Linked DNA regions of Homo sapiens: region 2 is linked to region 1. The links come from fine-mapping of genetic effects on gene expression. Tissue or cell type: whole blood. Region 1 holds a variant in brackets; the other region holds the start of a gene. All regions are shown on one strand. Distances are from middle to middle.

Region 1 (10,168 bases):
ATAACGTCACCAGATGCCTCCCACATCTTCCCGGGGTAATTAATGTCACCTCCCAATGGCTTTATGCCATTCTGCACATTTTGTTCACAGGGCCGCAATCATTGTTTGGGGATGCACATGTGAACTACCCCCCCCGTCCGATCGGAGTAACACTCAACGGACTCTCTCCCTTGGATATGAGGCCGATGCTACCCACCCTGCCTATTTGTGCAGATGTGAAACCTTGAACTGCACTTTGTTTCTATGACAAAGCCTGCCTGGGAACAATACTGACAATTTAGAAGGAAAGGCCGAACCACAAAACCATGTCCACAAACAGAATGGGACAGGACAACGTAAATGTCAAGTGAGAAGTTTAAATAGTGAGCATTTCTCTCTGGGCAGACAGGACAGCTGAGCGCAGGGACCTTCTGAAAAGACCCTCATGGAGTTTATGAAATAAGCCGGCGTATGGAGGAAGGACTGGGTCGTAAAGTCTTAGACTTCAAGCTGTGACTTTCACTCTATTACCTACTTTACCAGTAGGTCAGTTAAGCTTTACAGAATCAAAAGTAAATACAATTCTCAGCTCCTGATCTTGTAGCTGTTAAAGATATTGAGTTTGACCCTCTGACATGTCTTGGTTCCAGCTAAGAGGAATGTAAATATTGAATGAGCCATTAACCATCATGCTCAGGTTTACTTAGACCACTATTTCCCAACTGAGTTTTGCAGAACATGCAATCCTAGTGGTGTGGAGGGTTGGGGAGAGCATTACATAAGGATTCTGTCTGTGGTCAAACAACTTTGGAAAATGATGTTAATTATTGTCACCTTTTAGAAACTTGCAATACCTGTTAGCAATTAAAGACTCTCAAAAGCCTGCAGTCAACAAACTTGTTTCTCTCTCTTTGACCTATAATTCCCCTTATGTGGTGTCACAGCCTTCTTCGCATGTAACACTAATCACGATCTTTCAGAACTAGTGTTCCCTAGAAGACCCTTTGAAAAATGCCATTTGTAGTTTTCTGGATGATCTTTTCAACCCAATAGAGTTGATGCCAGGGACAAATCTGGGCTCCCACACCCAGACTAGCAGGAATCTTGTGCGTCGGGCTAATAAGAGGTGGACAAAGCTTATCTCATTAAGTCAGACCATCAAATTTATGAAATAAGATATTAGTATGGCCTCATTGTACAGGTGACTTGACTAAGGTTCAGAAAGGTTAAAATTCGAAACTAGATCTATCTGACCACAGAGTCCGTCCTCCCAACTGCTACATTCAACCAACTCAGGCAAGTGAAGAGGCTCTTCCTAGCAGGGGAGCAATGATCAGGGATAGGGGCACAATAGAGATAACACACCAGATACGCGTGTAGATTTCACAGGAGATTCATGGAAAATAAAGTTGGAAAGAAGTGTTGGAACAGATTGTGAACTTCCTAAGCCTCAATCTAAGGGAAACAGAACTCACACTGGTTGAAATTTGCTTCTGCTCTTTATGCCTCACACCTGCACACAGCAATACTCATAATCCTCATACTAATCTCAATTTACAGTAGGGGAAACCAAGGCTCAGAAAGGTCAACTGACTTAGTTGCCCATGGTTGCGACTATTAGATGGTAGAGCCATGGTTTGAACCCATATCTGGCTGCTAGAAATCCACGGTTGTTCCTCTGAAGACTATGGGGCCTCTAGAAGAGAAGATTTGACTAGCCAATGGAGAGGACTGAAAGCTTTTAACTCTTGCCTGTTGCGAAGTGAACAATGAGTCTGAGTTGGTGGAGATTATGGGTGCTGAGACATTTGTTTTGGACAGACCACCACAACATTCCAGGCAAGAAGAGGCTGCATCCCAAAAGGTATGAGAATCAAATGACAACATAGTATGTGTATTGGAATTTCAAAAGTGGAATCAACAAGACAGCCCTTGGTTGTTTATTGGATAATGGGGCCGCGGGGATCAACGAAGAAGGAGTATCAAGGATCGTGGATGATTTTGTAATTTTGAACCCATGTGATGAGGAGGAAATTCTGCAGAAATGGCAGAGCCCGGGAGCCCATGAAGCCATCCATCCAAAACCTGAAACCAAAGCTCAGATCATAAGAATTATAGACAATACAGGCCGGGTGCGGTGGCTCACGCCTGCAATCCCAGCACTTTGGGAGGCCAAGGCCGGCGGATCATGAGGTCAGGAGATGGAGAGCATCCTGGCTAACACAGTGAAACCCTGTCTCTACTAAAAATACACACACACACACACACACACACAATTAACCAGGCGTGGTGGCGGGTGCCTGTAGTCCCAGCTACTCAGGAGGCTGAGGCAGGAGAATGGCGTGAACCCGGGAGGCGGAGCTTGCAGTGAGCTGAGATCGCGCCACTGCACTCCAGCCTGGCAGCCTGGGCGACAGAGCGAGACTCCTTCTCAAAGAAAAAAAAAAAGAATTATAGACAATACAGCAAAAACTCCTCATCTGCTAGCTTCCTTCTACAATTGCTGACTGTCACTGAGACCAGAAGCCCTGCCACTTGGTGATGTTTGTGATGTGGAGCAAAGCAGAAGGCATGCTCAGCATCCACTGGCTTTCCACAGCCATGTTCATGAAACCTTTATCTTTTTGCTAGCCTGGCTGTGAAATGGCTTGGAGACATGAGGCTCCACTGGACTGAAGTTCTTTCCAATCCTGGGAGCCTGCGGTGCACGACAGAAACGTGACTGGTGAGGTGTTGCTGTGGTTTGAATATTTGTCCCCTCCAAAACTCATGTTGAAATTTAATCCTCTATGTGACAGTATTGAGAGGTGGGACCTTTAAGAGGTGAATGGTTCATGAGGATGCTGCCATCATGGATAAGTGAATGGGTTAATGAATTAATGGGTTATTATAGGAGTGGGGCAGGTGGCTTTATAAAGAGAGAGACCTGAGCTAGCATGCCTAGCCCCCTCGCCACGTGAGGCCCTGCAACACTTCGGGACTCTGCAGAGAGTCCTCAGCCTGAAGGCCCTCACCAGATGTGGCCCCTTCACCTTGGACTTCTCAGCCTCCGTAACTTTAAGAACTAAATTCCTTTTCTTTCTAAATTACCCAGTTTCAGGTATTCCATTATAAGCAACAGAAAACGGACTAAGACAGTTGTCATCTGCTACAGAAGTAAAACTTAAAATATGACCCCTGGGCAAGTCACTTACCCCACTGGGTCTCAGCTCCCATGTCTGAAAAATGAGGGCCTTGGTCTCTGTGACCTTCTAAGTTTGTGCCTCTCGGCCTTGACGTGATTCCCTCCTTTGGGCCAAGGGCACACCAGCCCTTCTCACCCTGCAGAATAGCATAGCATTCTGGAACCCGAGAGATGCTGGGGCCTGGAATGAAGGTTCATCTCCTTCCCCAGAACCTGGCAGAAAGTTCCTGGTCTGTGTGCAGAAGGACCACATTGAGCCAAGACACCAGCCCTATAGGCCAATCGATCTGCCCTCAAAGCCAGGGTCTAGGGAGTGGTGGGATGAGCCAGAGGGGGCAATCTGTGGTGACTGGAACTTGGTGTCTGGTCGAGGCCTGCAGCATGGGGGGCTACTGCGGAAGGCAGAGGTCTGGGTAGGCACCTTCAGGGCGGGGCACCTTCCTATTGGCACTCAACGTTCCCTTTAGCTTTGTTCATGTCGACCCCCATAGGCTGCAGTTTTGGACACTTGCATCCCCTCTGCCCTTTGCAAGGGGCAGGCCACGCTCTTGGGACTGGAAAGCTATTTTCTGCCTCCACACGGGGGTGGAATGGCTGTAAGCGGGGACTGAAGAGGACTTCTGAAAGCAAACCGGGACAGGAAGGGAGAGGATTCGACCAGGGGTTCCGAAGCTCTCCACCAGGGAGCGCCAAACACAAGGGAAAACTAGCGTCCCTCTTCATTGGGCAAACCTGGTCCCTATTCCCTTCCCAAAGCTGCAGCTCAGGATGAGGCCGGCAACCTGAAGGCCCTTTAGTTCTTGGAGCTTGGAATTACAG[A/G]AAACCCCGAGGATCAGGTGCTGCTGCTGAGCTGGCTTTGTGAGAGACAGGAGGCGAGGCCAGGGTCTGGGAAAAGGGAGCAGCTGCAAAGGCTTCCAGTGGAATTGGCAGATCAGCCTGGCCAGCCCAGACAGCCTCTGGCAGCCTTTCCTGAGGATATGGACGACCCTGATGCTACTTTTGTCTTGATCAGTGTAAATGTGAAGAAACAGGATAAATAGCTGCATGTACTTTTTGAGTTTCCTAGGGCTGCCGAGGGACCACCTGAGGTCAGAGTCACAATAATAAAACCAATTTCACAGACCCTCACCTCCTGCTCCTCAGCCCCATCCCCTTCCAAGCCTGGCTGCCCAAATCTCATCAGTGTATATTCCAGTGCCTGCAGAGAGAGGCTCACAAGGATTTACAAATAAGTCCTATCTCACCAGGCACTCACTGGATCTCTGTCACCATGGAAGAGATGAGAAGATTCCAAGAAAATTCCAAGACCCTCCACTATCATATCAACATGTTACAATTTTCCTCTTTCAGGAAGCATGTGGCATCCAGAAACAGTGCTTCTTCCTATTGTTCTTGGCAAATTACATCAAAATCTGTGTGCTCTTAGCCCAGAAAAGAGATGACACTTCCAGGAAGGAGAGAATATAGCACCTGCTTTTGGCTAAAGCCCCTCTTCTCCAAGGTTGTACTGGCAGGTTTTCTAAATTTTGATTAGAGAATAGTGAGAAGCTTGCCCTTGGAGAGGTGAGTTAGGTAAGAGAGCTATGATTGGATGTCACCACTGAACCTACCTGAAATGAGGTAAGAGAGTTGGGAATGGATCCCACCAGAGGCCCATCATTTTTATGGCAAGTCATAAGAGGGATCTGAATGTCTCCCCCCATGACAATAGCTGTCCCATCTTGCCTTGGAGCTTGGCTGTCAGCAGCAAATAAACCTCACTGTGTCTGTCCCTGGGACTAGCGAGTCAGACCAACTCAGGGGCTCAAGGTGTTTGGATATTTGAAGAAGTCTTGCCTTCCACAGAAGACCAGAGGTTGTGTGGTGATATCTGAATTTTGCTTAGCATTGTCTTGAACAGGAACTAAAGAAACATTTCAAGAAGAAAACAATTGCTTTTAAAAACTTAACTCTTCTTTGTCATTTGGTGCTCAGAAATCTTTGTCTCATTGCAAACAAAAGAAACTAAGTAAGGGCAGTCTTGGAAAGAAGACGCACCAGGTACCATTACTGCAGTCATACTGAGGCCCACCACCACCACGACTACCACCAATGGAAACGAGAGATGGGGTTCAGATGTGGATGACAAAGATGTGGATGACAAAGGTCTAGCATCAAAGGACAAAATCAACAGAAGTGAAGAGGCAACCTATGGAATGGGAGAAAATATTAGCAAATCATACATCTGATAAGGTGTTAATATGCAGAATATATGAAGAACTCTTAAAACTCAACAACAAAAAAACAAACAACCTGATTTTTAAATGGGCAAAGTACTTAAATAGACATTTCTCTAAAGAAAATATACAAAAGACCAGCAAGCTCATGAAAAGATGCCCAACATCACTAATCATTAGGGACATGCAAACCAAAACCACAATGAGATACCATCTCTCACACTCATTAGGATGGCTGCTATGAAAAACAAACAAAAAACGAACAACAACAACAAAAAAAAAACAGGCCAGGCACTGTGGCTGGCTTGTAATCCCAGCACTTTGGGAGGCCAAGTTGGGCTGATCCCTTGAGGTCAGGAGTTCACCTGGCCAACATGGTGAAACCCAGTCTTTACTAATAATACAAAAATTAGCTGGGCCTGGTGGCACACACCTGTAATCCCAGCTACTCAGGAGGCTGAGGCAGCAGAATCACTTGAACCTAGGAGGCAGAGTTTGCAGTGAGCAGAGATTGGACCACTGCACTCCAGCCTGGGTGACGGAATGAAACTGTGTCTCAAAAAATAATAATAATAATAATAAGTGTTGACAAGGATGGAGAAATTAGAACACTATGAACTGTTGATGGGAAAGTAAAATAGTGCAACCACTATAGAAAACTGTAGGGTTCTTGCTAAAAAAAATTAAAAATAGAATTACCATATGATCTAGCATTCCCATTCCTGAATATATACCCAAAAGAATGGAAGGCAAGGTCTTGAAGAGATATTTGTACATGCATGTTCATAGCAGGATTATTCACAGTAGCCAAAATGTGGAAGTAACCCAAGTGCCTATCAACAGATGAATGGATAAAAAGTGTGGTATATACATACAAAGGAATATCATTCAGCCTTTAAAAGGTTTCAAATGTTTCCTCTGTTCTTTTCTTTTTTTCTTCTCCTGTATTCTCATTACATGTATTTATATGAATAGCTTTTGTAGCTATCCCACAGTCCTAGGATGCTCTGTTTGGTTTTTCTTTTTTAGTCTCTTTGCACTTTGCTTTTTTTTTTTTTTTTTTTTTTTGAGATGCGGTCTCGCTCTTTCACCCAGGCTGGAGTGCAGTGGTGCAATCTTGGCTCACTGCAACCTCTGCTGCCCGGGTTCAAATGATTCTCCTGCCTCAAGCCTCCCAAGTAGCTGTGATTACAGGCACCTGCCAGCACGCCCAGCTAATTTTTGTATTTTTAGTAGAGACAGGGTTTCACCATCTTGGCCAGGCTGGTCTGGAACTCCTGACCTCGTGATCCACCCACCTCAGCCTCCCAAAGTGCTGGGACTACAGGCGTGAGCCACCGCACCCGGCCTTGCACTTTGCTTTTCAGTTTTGGAAGTTTCTTTTGAGATATCCTCAAGCTCAGCGTTTCTTTCCTCAGCTGTGTCCAGTATACTAATGAGCCTATCTGGGTGGTCTTTATTTCTATTACAGTGTTTTTGATCCCTAGTGTATGTTTTTGGTTCTGTCTTAGAATTTCTATCTCTTTGTTTAAATTGCCCATCTGTTCTTGCATGTTATCTGCTTTATCCATTAGAACGCTTAGCATATTAATTATATTTGGGTTAAATTCCTGATCTGATAATTCCAACATCCCTGTCACATGAGTCAGATTCTGATGCTTTCTCTGTCTCTATATTTTGTTTTTGCCTTTTAGTATGCCCTGTAATTTGTTTTCCCCAGACATAATGTACTGGGTAAAAGAAACTTCTGTTCATAAGCCTTTAGTAATGTGGTGGTAAGGTGTGGGGGAAGAAGAGCATTCTATAGTCCTATGAGTAGGCCTCAGTCTTTTAGTAAGCCTATGCCCCTAGACTGTGAACTTCAGACGTGCTTCTCAGTTGCTCCCCTCTCCCCTTAGGTAAACTAGGATGGTTAGAGTGAACTGGAATTAGGGTTTTCCTTCTCCCACATGGAAGGTTGGAGGAAATTAGAGTTGAGTATTTCCCTTCCTCCATGTGGAAGCTACAGCTGGTTGGAATTGGATATTTTCCTTCCCCTAAGTTAATTACGCTCTGATAAAAACCCAGCAGGTTAGACTGGTTAAATAGTTTCTCCTAGAGGAAGGCTTTGTTGAAAAGAATGGAATGCATTGGTATTTCCAAATAGCTTCTTTTCCCATCCCCAGGATGGAAGCATGAGGGAAATTTTCTCAAATTATTCACTGTGAGAACCTGGTAGAGCTCCAGGAGGTAAAATTCACCAGAGTGTAGGGACCCCCTTATGCCTGGGTACCCCTGGAATATTTATCTCTCAGACTTGTCCATGCCGAGCCTCCAGCAACTCATCAAGTACAATGCCGGTTTCTACTTGTGAGTTTCTGCTTCCGTATGTTTTGATTCTCTGTATTCACCTCTCTGTCTCTCCAATCTTGGGAGCACTGGTTTATCCTGTGACATCACTTGTCTCACAGATCTAAGAAGAGTTGTTGATTTTCCAGTTTTTTCAGCTTTTTACTTGTTAGGACAGAGTGGTTACTTCCAAGTTTCTTAACATGCCAGACCACAAACTAAAAGTTCTGCATTTTCAAAAGTGTTAACCTCTGAGGGTTTTCTAGTTGTGATCGTGACCTTTGGTTCCAACTCAATTTTAACCAAAGTCAAATCAAAGTGTTTGAAGCTTAAAACTCATATTTCCACAATATCCTTTGCCCAGTTTTTGTTCTGTTTCTTGTCTTTTTTCATGTGGTTTTGCAGAAGTGTGTTGTATAATCTAGATATTAATCCTTTGCTGATTTTCATTTCGGAAATATCTTTGCCCAGTCTGTCACTCATTTGTTAACTTTGGTATATTTTTTTGAACAGAAAATCTTATTTTGATGTAATCAAAGTTTTTTATTTTCCCATTACAATTTATCTTGAGGATCTTAAGAATCTCTCTTGCTACAAGGATTCTAGGGAGAAAAATAAAATAAAATAAGAATCTCTCTTGCTACCCCCCCCACTTCCAAGTTAAAAAGATACTACATTTTCCATATTAGCTTTTAATTTTAAACTCTCATTTTAGGTCTTTAATTCATTTGGAATTTCTTTTGAATAGACTTAAGATAGGGACCCACCTTTATATTTCTCCACTTAGCCAGTTTTCAAAATGCTATAGACTAAATAATCCACTCTTCCTCTATGATTTCTGGCACTACATCTTTATACTTAAGTCTGCTTTTGAGTTCTCTAGTTTTATTAATCTATTTGTCCCTGCACTAATATCACACTAATATCACAGTTAGCACTTGGCTTTGTAATGTCTCAATATTTGGTAAGGTGAGTCTTTCCTCTTTACTCTTCTTTTTTAGGCTTTATTCTCCCTTATAAATTTTACAGTAAGTGTTTCACTTTCCCCCAAAAAAATTCTGGAAATTTTATTGGAACTGCATTGAATTCGTACATTAATTTGGAGGGATTTGGCATCCTTACATTGTTAAGCCATTTATCTATGAATATAGTATGTATTTCTATTTATTATTATTATTATTATTATTATTTTCTTTTTTGAGACGGAGTCTCGCTCTGTCACCCAGGCTGGAGTGCAGTGGCGCCATCTTGGCTCACTGCAAGCTCCACCTCCCGGGTTCAAGCCATTCTCCTGCCTCAGCCTCTAGAGTAGCTGGGACTACAGGCACCTGCCACCACGCCCGGCTAATTTTTTGTATTTGTAGTAGAGATGGGGTTTCACCATGTTAGTCAGGATGGTCTCAATCTCCTGACCTTGTGATCCACCCGCCTTGGCCTCCCAAAGTGCTGGGATTACAGGCGTGAGCCACTGCGCCCGGCCTCAAAACTTCTTTATGTCCTTTAATAGTTTTAAATTTTGCTCCACAAAGATCTTATGTAGTTTCATTATATAAGGTCGTAAGTACTTGACAGTTTTTTATGCTATTGTAAAAGATCATTTTGTATATTTTTATATTTTCTAATTGGTCATTGACAGTGCAAACAAACCCTATCAGTTTCTGTATGCTGGGCATCATCTCCAGCCATCTTGCTGAACTCTGTTTTTAGTTCTGACTCTCTATCTCTTAATTCTGTTGTGCTTACTATGTAAATAAACATTTCATCTGCAAATAATCAATTTTGCCTTTACCCTGCTAGCACTTGACCCTCTTGTTGTTATTGGTGGTGGCAGTGGTGGTGGTTTTCATGGTCTTGGTGTGTTAGCAAGGAATTCCAATGCCATGTTGAATAGTAGTGGTAGAGTAACCATTTTTGTGTTCTCAACCTTAAAAAGAATCTGTCTAAAGTCTTTGTCTGTTTGTTTGTGTATTTGATTTTTAGAGACAGGGTCTCACTCTGTTGCCTAGGCAGGAGTGCAATGACATGATCATAGCTCATGGCGTCTTGAACTCCCAAGCTCAAGTGATCCTCCCACCCGAGTCTTCCAAGTAGCTGGAACTATAGGTGCCACCATGACCAGCTAATGTTTTTATTGTTTAATTTTTGTAGAAATTCCTGGCATCAAGCAATCCTCCTGCCTCAGCCTCCCAAAGTGCTCGGATTAAAAGCACCATGCCAGGCTACATCTAAAGCTTCAGTATGATGTTTGCTGAAGGCTTTATTAAATTAAAGAAGTTCCTTTTTATTCCTGGTTTTTCATAACACTCATCATAAACTTTATTAAGCATTTACTGGATCTATTAAGATCATGTGGTTTTCTTCCTTCTCTAGTTTATTCCTGTGGTGATTGTATATTAATATACTTTCTGATTTTTTTTTTTTTTTTGAGACAGAGTTTTGCTCTTGTTGCCCAGGCTGGAGT
Region 2 (10,168 bases), 84 kb before region 1:
AAGCTCACAGAGACAGTAAAAAGGGGAATCCAGGATTTAAGCACAGACAGGTGGGGTCCAGAGTCCCTGCGCTTAACCACTAATCTCTGCTGCTCTCTGGAACCTCTCGTGTGGGTGGTGGGTAAGCTGAGGCCATGAAAAGGATCACACAGATGTCTGAGAAGAATGGCTTCGTTTCTAATGGAACGCTGGAGACGCTCTGATAGCTTCAAAATAGAAGCTGTGTTCACACACCCTCAGGAATGGTGGGAGTGGCAGGGGTGGAAAAGTTGGAGGGGGCATAGAGGAGGAGAGGAAGCTGGGGCCAGACTGGGTTGGCGGGACTCCAGGCTGGTCTGCGCGGACCACTGCTAAGGGGAGGGCAGTCAGGAAGGAAGCCCTCGGTGAATGGTGAATGTCGCTCCTGGCTCCAGAGCAGACTGAAGGGGGTCCCCCGAGACCTCTGGGGAAGAGGAGGGAGGGAGCAGAGCGGCCCCCACCCCCACACACCCAAGGAAGGGGCCCTTGCAACCAGGGACCAGAGGCCTTCTCTGAGCAAAACTGTAGCCGAAAGTCTCTGAGGCCAGAACAGAATCGTTTTGGGGCTGAGAAAGCTGAGGAGGGCTTTGCAAACCCAATCTGCAGCCCCTCAGGTTACAGAGGAGGAAACTGAGGCCCAGAGACTGGGAGAGGCCTGCACAGGGTCACACAGAGTGAGAGGCACGTGCCAGGATGAGGGCCCAGCCAGGTAGCCTGGCTTACTTTTGGGGGTGTAGCTCAGTGTGTGCATGCGTGCGTGTGTGTGTGTGTGTGTGTGTGTGCGTGTGCACATGAGTGGGTGTGTGGTCCTGCACATGTTTGGAGGGCAGGCAATTTGCATAAATAATGCAAGTTGGGGTCTTTGCGTTTTCTCACTGATTTCCTGGTTGACCCCAGCCATCTTGATTTGTTCCACTTCCTGGTGTGAGTTCATTTGGAAAAAGAAAATGGAGAGGGTGATATGCATATCATGCAGATGAAGAGACTCCTAACACCTCCCCAGCTCAGCTCCACCAGCAAAAGCCTGTCCAAGGAGGAACCTGCGGTATTAGGGGCAGAGGGAGAGGAAGCAGGGGTCCACTTGGTCTCCCTCTCAAGGCAGCCATGAGAACAGGGGAAATGAGAAGAGACCAGGCCCCGCCCTCCACAGCAACCCCAAAGTGTCTGCCCTCTCACCTCATCACAGAGCTGCCAGTACCAAGGAGTTTGGGAGAGGGGACAGTTGCACCCGCAAAAGAGAAGGAGGAGGTCACAAGGTTTTCTTCACCTGAAGGGCAGCTTTCGGAAGAGGGAGTGACTGATCTTCTCTGTGTCCTTCCCATTTCGAACCCTGTAAATGTGTAACTAGTCCAAACAAACATGTACATTTAAATGTAAGAAAAGAATGTGGTTGATCCTTATGTACCAATATATCGTGATCTTCAAGTAAACAAAGCAAGTTAAAGAGCGATTTGTATGGTGCTCACATGTATAAACTACCCTAAGCTATTTACCATGGTTATCACTGGGTGGGAGGGTAAAGAAATTGAGGAGGGGGAGGAGAGAGACCCTCCTTTTTTCCTCTTAGGGTCCTACAATGCTTGAGTGTTTTTATAATGGAAATATATTTATGGATTACCTAAGTAGTTTTTGTTCTTCTTGTTGTTGTTTGTTTGTGACGAAGTCTTGCTGTGTCACCCAGGCTGGAGTGCAATGGCACAATCTTGGCTCACTGCAACCTCTGCCTCCCAGGTTTGAGTGATTCTCCTGCCTCAGCCTCCCAAGTAGGTGGGATTACAGGCACCGGCCACCATGCCAGGCTAATTTTTGTATTTTTAGTAGAGACGAGGTTTCACCACATTGGCCAGGCTGGTCTCGAACTCCTGACCTCAGGTGATCCACCTGCCTCGGCCTCCCAGAGTGCTGGGATTACAGGCATGAGCCATCGTGCCTGGCCTACTTGACTAGTTTTTTAAACATTACAGCTTAACAAAAAAAGAACATTGATGGCATTTAAAATAAAAACTTCCCCACCACCACCAAAAATAAGAAAAATAGCTGAGAAGGTGACTGGTTGGATATGAAGCATAAATCCGCTTCTTCTATCACCCCAATTAGTCCTGATTCTGCATGCACTCTGCCAAATAACGCTGCTGGAAGTAAAGGATGGAAAATTCCCGAGGTGTGCACTGTTCCTCCCTTTCCACAGCCACAGCAGACAGTACTAGTTGATAACGGATTTCCAGGGCAATGCTGATGCTGCCAGTCCAGGGACTACCCTTAGCGAACCAGTGGCTTAGAGCATGACGCTGTCCTGCCTGCCTCTGGGCCGTGGGCAAGAGCTGGAGGGACTGCACCAGAGGCAAAGGTGCCCCGCAGTTGGGTACTGCCTGTGCCGAGGCAGTGTGTCGAGTCTCACCTCCACCAGGGATGAGAGCGTTTAAACTTAACCTATCTGTGTAACTGTAGCTGACTCACGAGGTGATTGTTTAAACGAATCAAAATGTGTTTTCCTAACAGCTCTTTTCTGGTTTATTACCTCTCACGGTTTTCTAAAAATGGGTCCTGCCAACCAGAGAGCTATCTGTGTGGGTGGCAGTCATGAATTTGGGGTAGAAAAGTGGGGAGTTGAGAATTAGAATGGAATTACAGTGCTCTGAATGGGCTTCGAAGACAATTTGGATATGTCTGTGAAAAAAATCTAGGAGGGAGGAACCGACGCTAATGAGTCAGGGTCACATGGGGAGAAGAGAGACAGGAAAAAGCACAAAAGCCCACCCCATTCCAGGCTGCCCGCTCCAATGGCATGGCATGGAGGAGGGACGTCGGGATCCTCAGAACTATCCACAGAGGATTTTTGAATAGTTTGCCAAGAGACGTGTGATGTACACTCCCTTCATCCTCCTACATAATCTTTAGTAAAATTGACTTTGCTTATTAGTATTTTATGTAAGTGGATTCCTTAGAAAACTGAAATGACAAATTCTGCCGCCTTCGATGCTGAATAATCCCAGAGCAGCTCCCACGGTGGGTGGCACTGCAGGTGAGGACACAAGCGACCCTGGGGACCTCTTTTCCTAAGCATGTAATTCTTGCCTGACTCCAATACTGTGGTCCTGCAGACCTCCGCAATGCTGGTACCTGGCCCTCCTCACCCGTGGCTCTGTCCACAGTTGCAAGAAGATTTAATTTTTGTTTAAAGCTCTCAGTGGCTTTGTAATGGATTAGAAAATGGATGAGGATGGATTGGAAACAGTGGTTCATCTGTAGAGAAGGTAAGTAACTTTGTAACCCCAAGGCGAGTTATGTAAACAGACTTCCAAACACCCTGGCTGAGATAGGAGAACCTGAAGAGAGGCCATTGCAGCTATGCCCAGAAGGGTCACCAGGAGTGGGGACCCTCACTTGGCAGAGGAGGGTGGCAGAAGGAGGAGGAGGAAGGGGAGTGACAATAGATGGTGGGCCTTCTGCTTCTGTATCTTGGGCATTGATCATTCTGGGGGGTCTTTGCCTCCATTAGCTGACCAGGTCATCTGGGAACTAGTACAGTGAAAGCAGGGAACCTTAATTTTTACAGTTCTGATGCTGACGGATCATTTGCCTTTTGGCAGGGAAAGAGGGGGCTGCTCTTTGGAGACTGGTGCAGATGAGAAACCTGGTAAGAGCACAGCCTGGAAAACCCAGATTAAACAAATCCTAAGAACATGGTCTGGAGAGGAAAGACATGGCTGGGATTGGCAAAAGGGGTAGTGCTGCCTTGCCTTGGTGATGGTAGGGACGGTGCACTGGGGTCCGTGGGGGAACTTGGTCCTTCCTATTGTCACCTCCTCCTCCCACTGTCCTTTGTTCCTGGCTGGCGGTCAGCCGTGTGCACTCAAAAATGAAAGCACCCTAGCTCCTCTTTGCAAGGGACAGCTCTGGGGCTCTCTATGGTCACCAAGCTGCCCCCTCTATGGGTACCACAGCAAATGCAGTTGCAGAAATGGCAGCTGATGATAAAGAGAGCAGTGCACCCACAAGAAGTGACCTCGGCTTGTGATTTCCGATTCAGTTAAGCCAAGGCTGATAAGGAGAGGCGCTGCCCAGGGTGGCCACACTGCCCAGCTGCTGCTGAGTCTGGAACCTGCAGGGGCTGAGTTCTTGGTCCTTTATTCTGTCCTGGGCGTATTCGTTTCCTTCGTTCAGTCACCCATTTGCTTCATAAATAAGCCAAGCATTCTCTTAACACTCTTTCACCCTGTGATGGACGGAATAATGAACAACACTCTAGCCCCTGCTCTTTCAGGACTCATTGAGGGAGGAACAAGGCAGACATGTGAGCTGAGAACGCTAATACAAAGATGCAAGATAGAATGTGACTTCAGTCACATGAAGGGGACAGAAAAGAAGCAGTTATGGGAGGAAGGCACAGCAATAGAGTAAATGATTTACATTTCTGGACTTTTTTTCCAAATAGCTTCCTCTGCAAAATGAAAGGTCAGCATAGAACCTAGTCAAGCCCCTACGGGAAAGGATCAGTGACTTCACAGCCCCAAAGCTCTCTGAGTTGAGCCAAGTGACAAACTCCAACAGGCTTAATCCAAAAAAGAATGGAATTTATTGGATCATGTACAATGAACAGTCCAAGAGTAGATTCAGCCCCAGAATTTCAGGCATAGCTGGATCCAGCACTCAAACCCTGCTGTCAGCAATCTGTCACTCTCTAGAGCCATTTACCCATTAGGCCCAACGGGATGACAGCATAGAATCTGTGAGTTTTTCAAAGCTCTAGAAATGTGTCAGAGACTCTCCCAAATAGTGTTTGACTTCAAAATGTGAAAAAAAGAAAATGACAAAGTAGCAAATGTGTCACCATGCGGTTGATCAACTTCCCCCAGCAGGTCTACTGTTCCTGCCCAGCACTGCTCTCTCCTAATTGCCAAGGACAGCAGATGCTTCTTCATTCTCTTCACCTGTGTCCTCTCCACAATCATTGGCGTCGTTGACCATTGTCTCCTCCTTGGCATTCTGTCTTCTGCCAGCATCCCTGGCACTCCACTTTCCTCCTGCCTCTTAGGCTTGTTTTTTTGTTCTTCTCTGATAAATAATGAATGACAAGGGATGAGCCAGGAGAAGGGTTGGGAAGTGATTCCCACAGCCTGGATAGTTAAGAGACTGCAGTACTTCTGGGAGGGGCTGGAGTGAGGGGATAAAGCATGAGGTTGGAGTTTAGGGAGGGACCAGATCAAGAAGGGTCTGGCAAGTCACACTGAGGAGTTTGGCCATTCTCTTTAAAGTAATAAGGAGCCATTGAAGGTTGTAGCAGGAGTGTAACATGAATAGATTTGTGTTTCACTCTTAGAAAGAGACCTTTGGCTGTGGGGTGAAGGACCTCAGGCTATTGTAGTGTTTCAGGAGAAAGACCATGGTAGTCAGGTGAAACAGTGACAGCCATAGGGATGGAAGAAAGTGGAGGATCCATGACCTATTGACAGGGCTTGGTGCAGTTTAGATGTAACAGGCGAGGAAGAGGGAGGCGTTAGGATGATACCGAGGTTGCTGATTCTGAGGCAGGAAACAGAGAAGTGGGCTTAGAGGGAGAAATGATGAGCTCGGTTTGTACCTGTTGAGATGGAGGTGCTTGAGGGACATCTGGCTGGCCATGTCCAGGGGTGGGGGATGGTTGGTGAGTCTGGAGCTTGAGAGAGAGGTCAGGGCTCCCTGCATCAGTCCCTCCCCCGTCAACACCAGAGGGAGTCTCTTGGGAGGTGTCCCCCTCCTGCCCCATAAAATTGGTCACATTCGATCAGAATAAAGGACCTCCAGTGACCGTGGGTCATGCTTCTTTAGAAAGGATCCTCACAGCAAAATGCATTCTGGGAGGAGCTTCGAGGGCCACAAGGAAGGGGAAGGAAGAGGAGGGGACAGAGCTGTGAGACATCGAGCTTTTCTTTGCAGATCTGAAGAGCACAGTCAAGACCACAGACACCCGTGGAGGCTCCCCCAAGACATCTGCTTCTCTGGGACTGGGGACCTCGCTCAGGACCGTGGGGAGTTGGCTGAAGGACTTGGGGAGCCCAGAAGCTGCCACCGAACCAAGGTAAGTGCTGGCTTGGATGGAGATCGCCAGGCAGGCAGATCTGAGCAGAACAGATAGAGGGGTGGAACGGAGGGACCTGGAAGGGGAGCCCCTGGGGGGGCTGAAACACCCCTGGCTCTTATTTATCCAGGCTCAGGGCTGCCAGGGCCGTCTTTCTGAGAAGGGTGACCTCAGACACTGCAGGGTAATTCTGCCAAGTTAAGATTGTTTCAGCCCATTTTCACAAGATGAAAAGACACGGGACCCTGTGAGAAGGACTCTCCTTTCTTCTGGAATCCTGTACATGCTGTTAATAATAGGACTAATGATTGATGCCCGGTGCTGCAGAGTACACCCATTTTCCCATTTGATTCTCACCAGCATTTAGAGGTTGACTGGATAAGTGTTTTAGTGCCATTTTATAGAACAGAAGACTGAGGCTTAGGGAGATGAAGCAACTTGCCAAAGATTGCAGAGTGGGTTAGCAAGGAGCAGGACTCAGTGTGAAACATCTGGGTCCCAGTCTGTGCCCTTTCTGGGACATCATCTGCCCATCACTTTCCTGGGGAATTTGGTGAAAGTCATGCTGGTCTGGCTGATTCTCTTCCTATACACAAATCCAGTATCTTCTATGTGTGCCAGAGTCTGACCGAGGCCTGGTCTCTGTCCTTGAAGGGCTGACTGCTTGCAAAGAGGGTCTGAACACAGCTGCGAGTGACCAACTCAGAACCTTCAGGGTCCTCAGCGAGCCAGGAGGTGTGTGGTGTGTGCAGGATGAAAGAGACTGCAGGGTGCGGGCTCAGGGAGGGTCCCGTGGAAGGTGGTGCCTGGCTGAGGCTCAAGGGAGGACCTGGTGTGCAAAGAGGAGGCAAGAGGCACCTCAGCAATGGGGAGCAAAGTGTGCAAACCCCCAGAGGCAGGAAAGCAAGTGGGAAAGTCAGGTGTTGGGGGGAGCACAGCTAGAGGGGGTGTGTGGAGCACTCGCAGGCCGGTCCTTTTTTGTTGTTGTTGAGACAGTCTCACGCTTTTGCGCAGGCTGGAGTGTAGTGGTGCGATCTCGGCTCACTGCAACCTCCGTCTCCTGGGTTCAAGCGATTCTCCTGCCTCAGCCTCCCAAGTAGCTGGGACTACAGGCACACACCACCACGCCTGGCTAATTTTTTGTATTTTTAGTAGTAATTTTTTGTGTTTTCACCGTGTTAGCCAGGATGGTCTTGATCTCCTGACCTCGTGATCCACCCACCTCGGCCTCCCATAGTGCTGGGATTACAGGCATGAGCCACAGCGCCTGGCCCGGTCCATTTATTTATTTAGCTCTATGTGGTTTTCAAATATCATCTCATTTAGTCTCATGACAAGCCTATGAGGTAGGTGTTGTTGTCAGGTCCCCTTTAAGATAGGGAAACTGAGGCACGGAGGTTTTAAGCAAGCAGCCCAAGTTGCCCTATTAACAGGATTGGAATGCCACCTGCCTGGCCACCATGCCCCGCTGCCTCACACTAGAACCTGCTGCAGGCCCTACACTGTCTCCACGAAAGCGCCTCGGCTGACACGGTGGCTGCAGATGCCAAGCTGCAGTCATCGCCATCTGGTCCCTGCTGCATTCAGGCCCCACCTGAATTCAGATCCCACCAAGCTTCCCTGCCCCTGGGAACAATGCTCCCCCACCCCCACCCCACTGGCTCTTTCATATCCAGGTGTTTCCTTCCAGCCAGAAGCAGACACAGCTGAGGAAACAGGCCTGTCCTTGTCCACGGGGGCCAGCCAGGGCAGCAGGACCCTCACCTCCCGGCTCCTTGGGAATCTGAGAAGTAGACCTCATGGGGGCAAGGGCTAAAGGTTGAGGGGGCCCCCTCAGGACCCAGAGCTCTGTCCTCTCACTCCCTTAGTCCCTCACTGCCAGCTCACTCACCACACGCTCCGATCCAAAAAAAAAAAAAACACAGCTATGACGTCTGGCAAGCCTGAGCTGCCCCTGAAACCCTGAGGGCACGAGGCAGCTCTGGTGGGAGAAGAGGGGAGGCAACAGAGGCAGGTGACCCAGGCTCTGCAGGTCCCCTCTCTCTGTGCCACAGGAGTGGCTGGAGGACAGGAGGCAGACAGAGTGTGGCCCTGGGAAGCTCCCCGTCTTTTCTGCCAGGGCTTTATTCCTGCAGCTGTGGTATAGGGAGGCCTGGAAGCTCCACATCTTTTCTGCCCAGGCTTTATTCCTGCAGGTATAGGGAGGCCTAGGTGGTGGGTTCTTCTGTCTGAACAGCTTGTCCGAGAAGCCAGCAATGGTGAGCTGGGGGGATGGGGGCACAAGGGACAGTCAGATCTGGAATCTTCATGTTCAGAATCTTCAGGTTCAGAAACTCTGAACCTGAGCCAGGCTTCCTCAGATCTTCCTCCAAGCCCTCTTACTTCAGTCTTCTCCTCTATCCAGGAGGTCACCCCCACTTTATCTCACACCAACAACAGGGAGCAGCAGCTGTGAACAGGTGGTCCCCATTTGCTTCTTTTTGCCGTGTCCATAGAAGGCTTCTATGGTTCTGTGGTCAGTCCTTGGGCTTGTTGTACCCCAAGGGAGTGATGAGCTGTGTGTGTGCACCTGGCCTGCGACTTGTTCAGTGCTGATGTTCTGTGTTTAAGGAAGAATGCTCTCTGAATCCCAATTCATTCATCCCTTCATTCTTTGTCTCTGATCTCATCCCTCTGCCAGGAACTGTGAAGGGGCTGGGTGCGGTGGCTCACGCCTGTAATCCCAGCACTTTGGGAGGCCGAGGTGGGTGGATCACGAGGTCAAGAGATCGAGACCATCCTGGCCAACACGGTGAAACCCCGTCTCTACTAAAAATACAACAAATTAGCTGGGCGTGGTGGCGGGCGCCTGTGGTCCCAGGTACTCGGGAGGCTGAGGCTGGAGAATCACCTGAACCCAGTAGGCAGAGGTTGCAGTGAGACGAGATTGCGCCACTGCACTCCAGTCTGGCGACAGAGTGAGACTCTGTCTAAAAAAAAAAAAAAAAAAAAAAAAAAAAGAGCTGTGAAGGACCTGGGTTATAAGTTAGAAGGATCTGTTAGTTATAAGTTAACTTAGAACTAACAAGTTAGCCCACCACAGCTTCATGGTCACCAGCAGAAGACATGAGACTCCAGAGTCAGAGACAAAGAACTCTATTACTCACAGCACAACTAGGAGCATGAACATTGTGATTATAGGTCCCCCTTTCCCCTAAGTCCTAGGGGCGCCGCAAGGAGCCCAATCCAAATGGACTCTGTTGCATCATAGCCCAGGAACCCTGAGCCTAGGAAACCCCAAATTTTCATGACGAGCTGCAAACAAACCTGCCCAACTTTTACCCTGAAAGGAGACATTATCTCTATTATATTGACAGCAAATTAGTCTTCTGTCCTAGAATGGACAGTATCTTCCAAGGCTGTTTGCTATACAAACGTATTTGAAAAGATGGTGCAGAAGAATGCTCACCAGGCATGCACAAACAGAAACCTATGGAGAATTGTCTCCCAACATCTTCCTAGTGTCCCCCACTCATTGCACCCCAAACGCTGTCCCTTAAAAACACTGGGCACCCTTGCAACTCAGGACTTGGCTATTCTCTTTGCTTAGAGCGTTCTTCCTGCAGATACCGCATGGCTTGCTGTCGGGCCTTTTTTAGGTTCCCACTCAAATGGCACCTCCTCAGGAGATCTCTCTCATCATCCTTTTGGAAACTGGCCGGGCGCGGTGGCTCACGCCTGTAATCCCCAGCACTTTGGGAGGCCGAGGCGGGTGGATCACGAGGTCAGGAGATCGAGGCTATTCTGGCCAACATGGTGAAACCCCATCTCTACTAAAATACACAAAATTAGCTGGGCGTGGTGGTGTGCACCTGTAGTCCCAGCTACTCGGGAGGCTGAGGCAGGAGAGTCGCTTGAACCTGGGAGGTGGAGGTTACAGTGAGCCGAGATCGCACCACTGCACTCCAGCCTAGGTGACAGAGCGAAACTCTGTCTCAAAAAAAAACACACACACACACACTTGGGGGTTGGGGGAAATAGGGAGATGCTGGTCAAAGGGTATGAAGTTTTCATTAGATGGGAGGAATACGGTTTCTGAGATTCATTGCACAT

The links.
Region 2: it holds the start of PIK3R6, and the variant in region 1 is fine-mapped to the expression of PIK3R6 in whole blood (TOPMed, PIP 0.97).

The regions. Positions count from the first base shown.
Region 1 is chr17:8,779,676-8,789,843 of GRCh38, reverse strand. No RefSeq gene overlaps it. Among named protein-coding and RNA genes, the nearest start is that of MFSD6L, 15 kb to the left of the region's middle. The variant A/G (reference allele first, on the strand shown) is at 3,983.
Region 2 is chr17:8,863,437-8,873,604 of GRCh38, reverse strand. It overlaps PIK3R6 (phosphoinositide-3-kinase regulatory subunit 6), which reads left to right and starts at 5,931. Exons shown (of 20, transcript NM_001010855.4): 1 at 5,931-6,076. It overlaps LOC107985071 (a long non-coding RNA gene), which reads right to left and starts at 5,831. Exons shown (of 2, transcript XR_001752787.2): 1 at 5,600-5,831; 2 at 4,572-5,073. RefSeq lists enhancers at 5,803-5,952, 5,983-6,162, 7,986-8,335, 8,446-8,585, 8,636-8,705.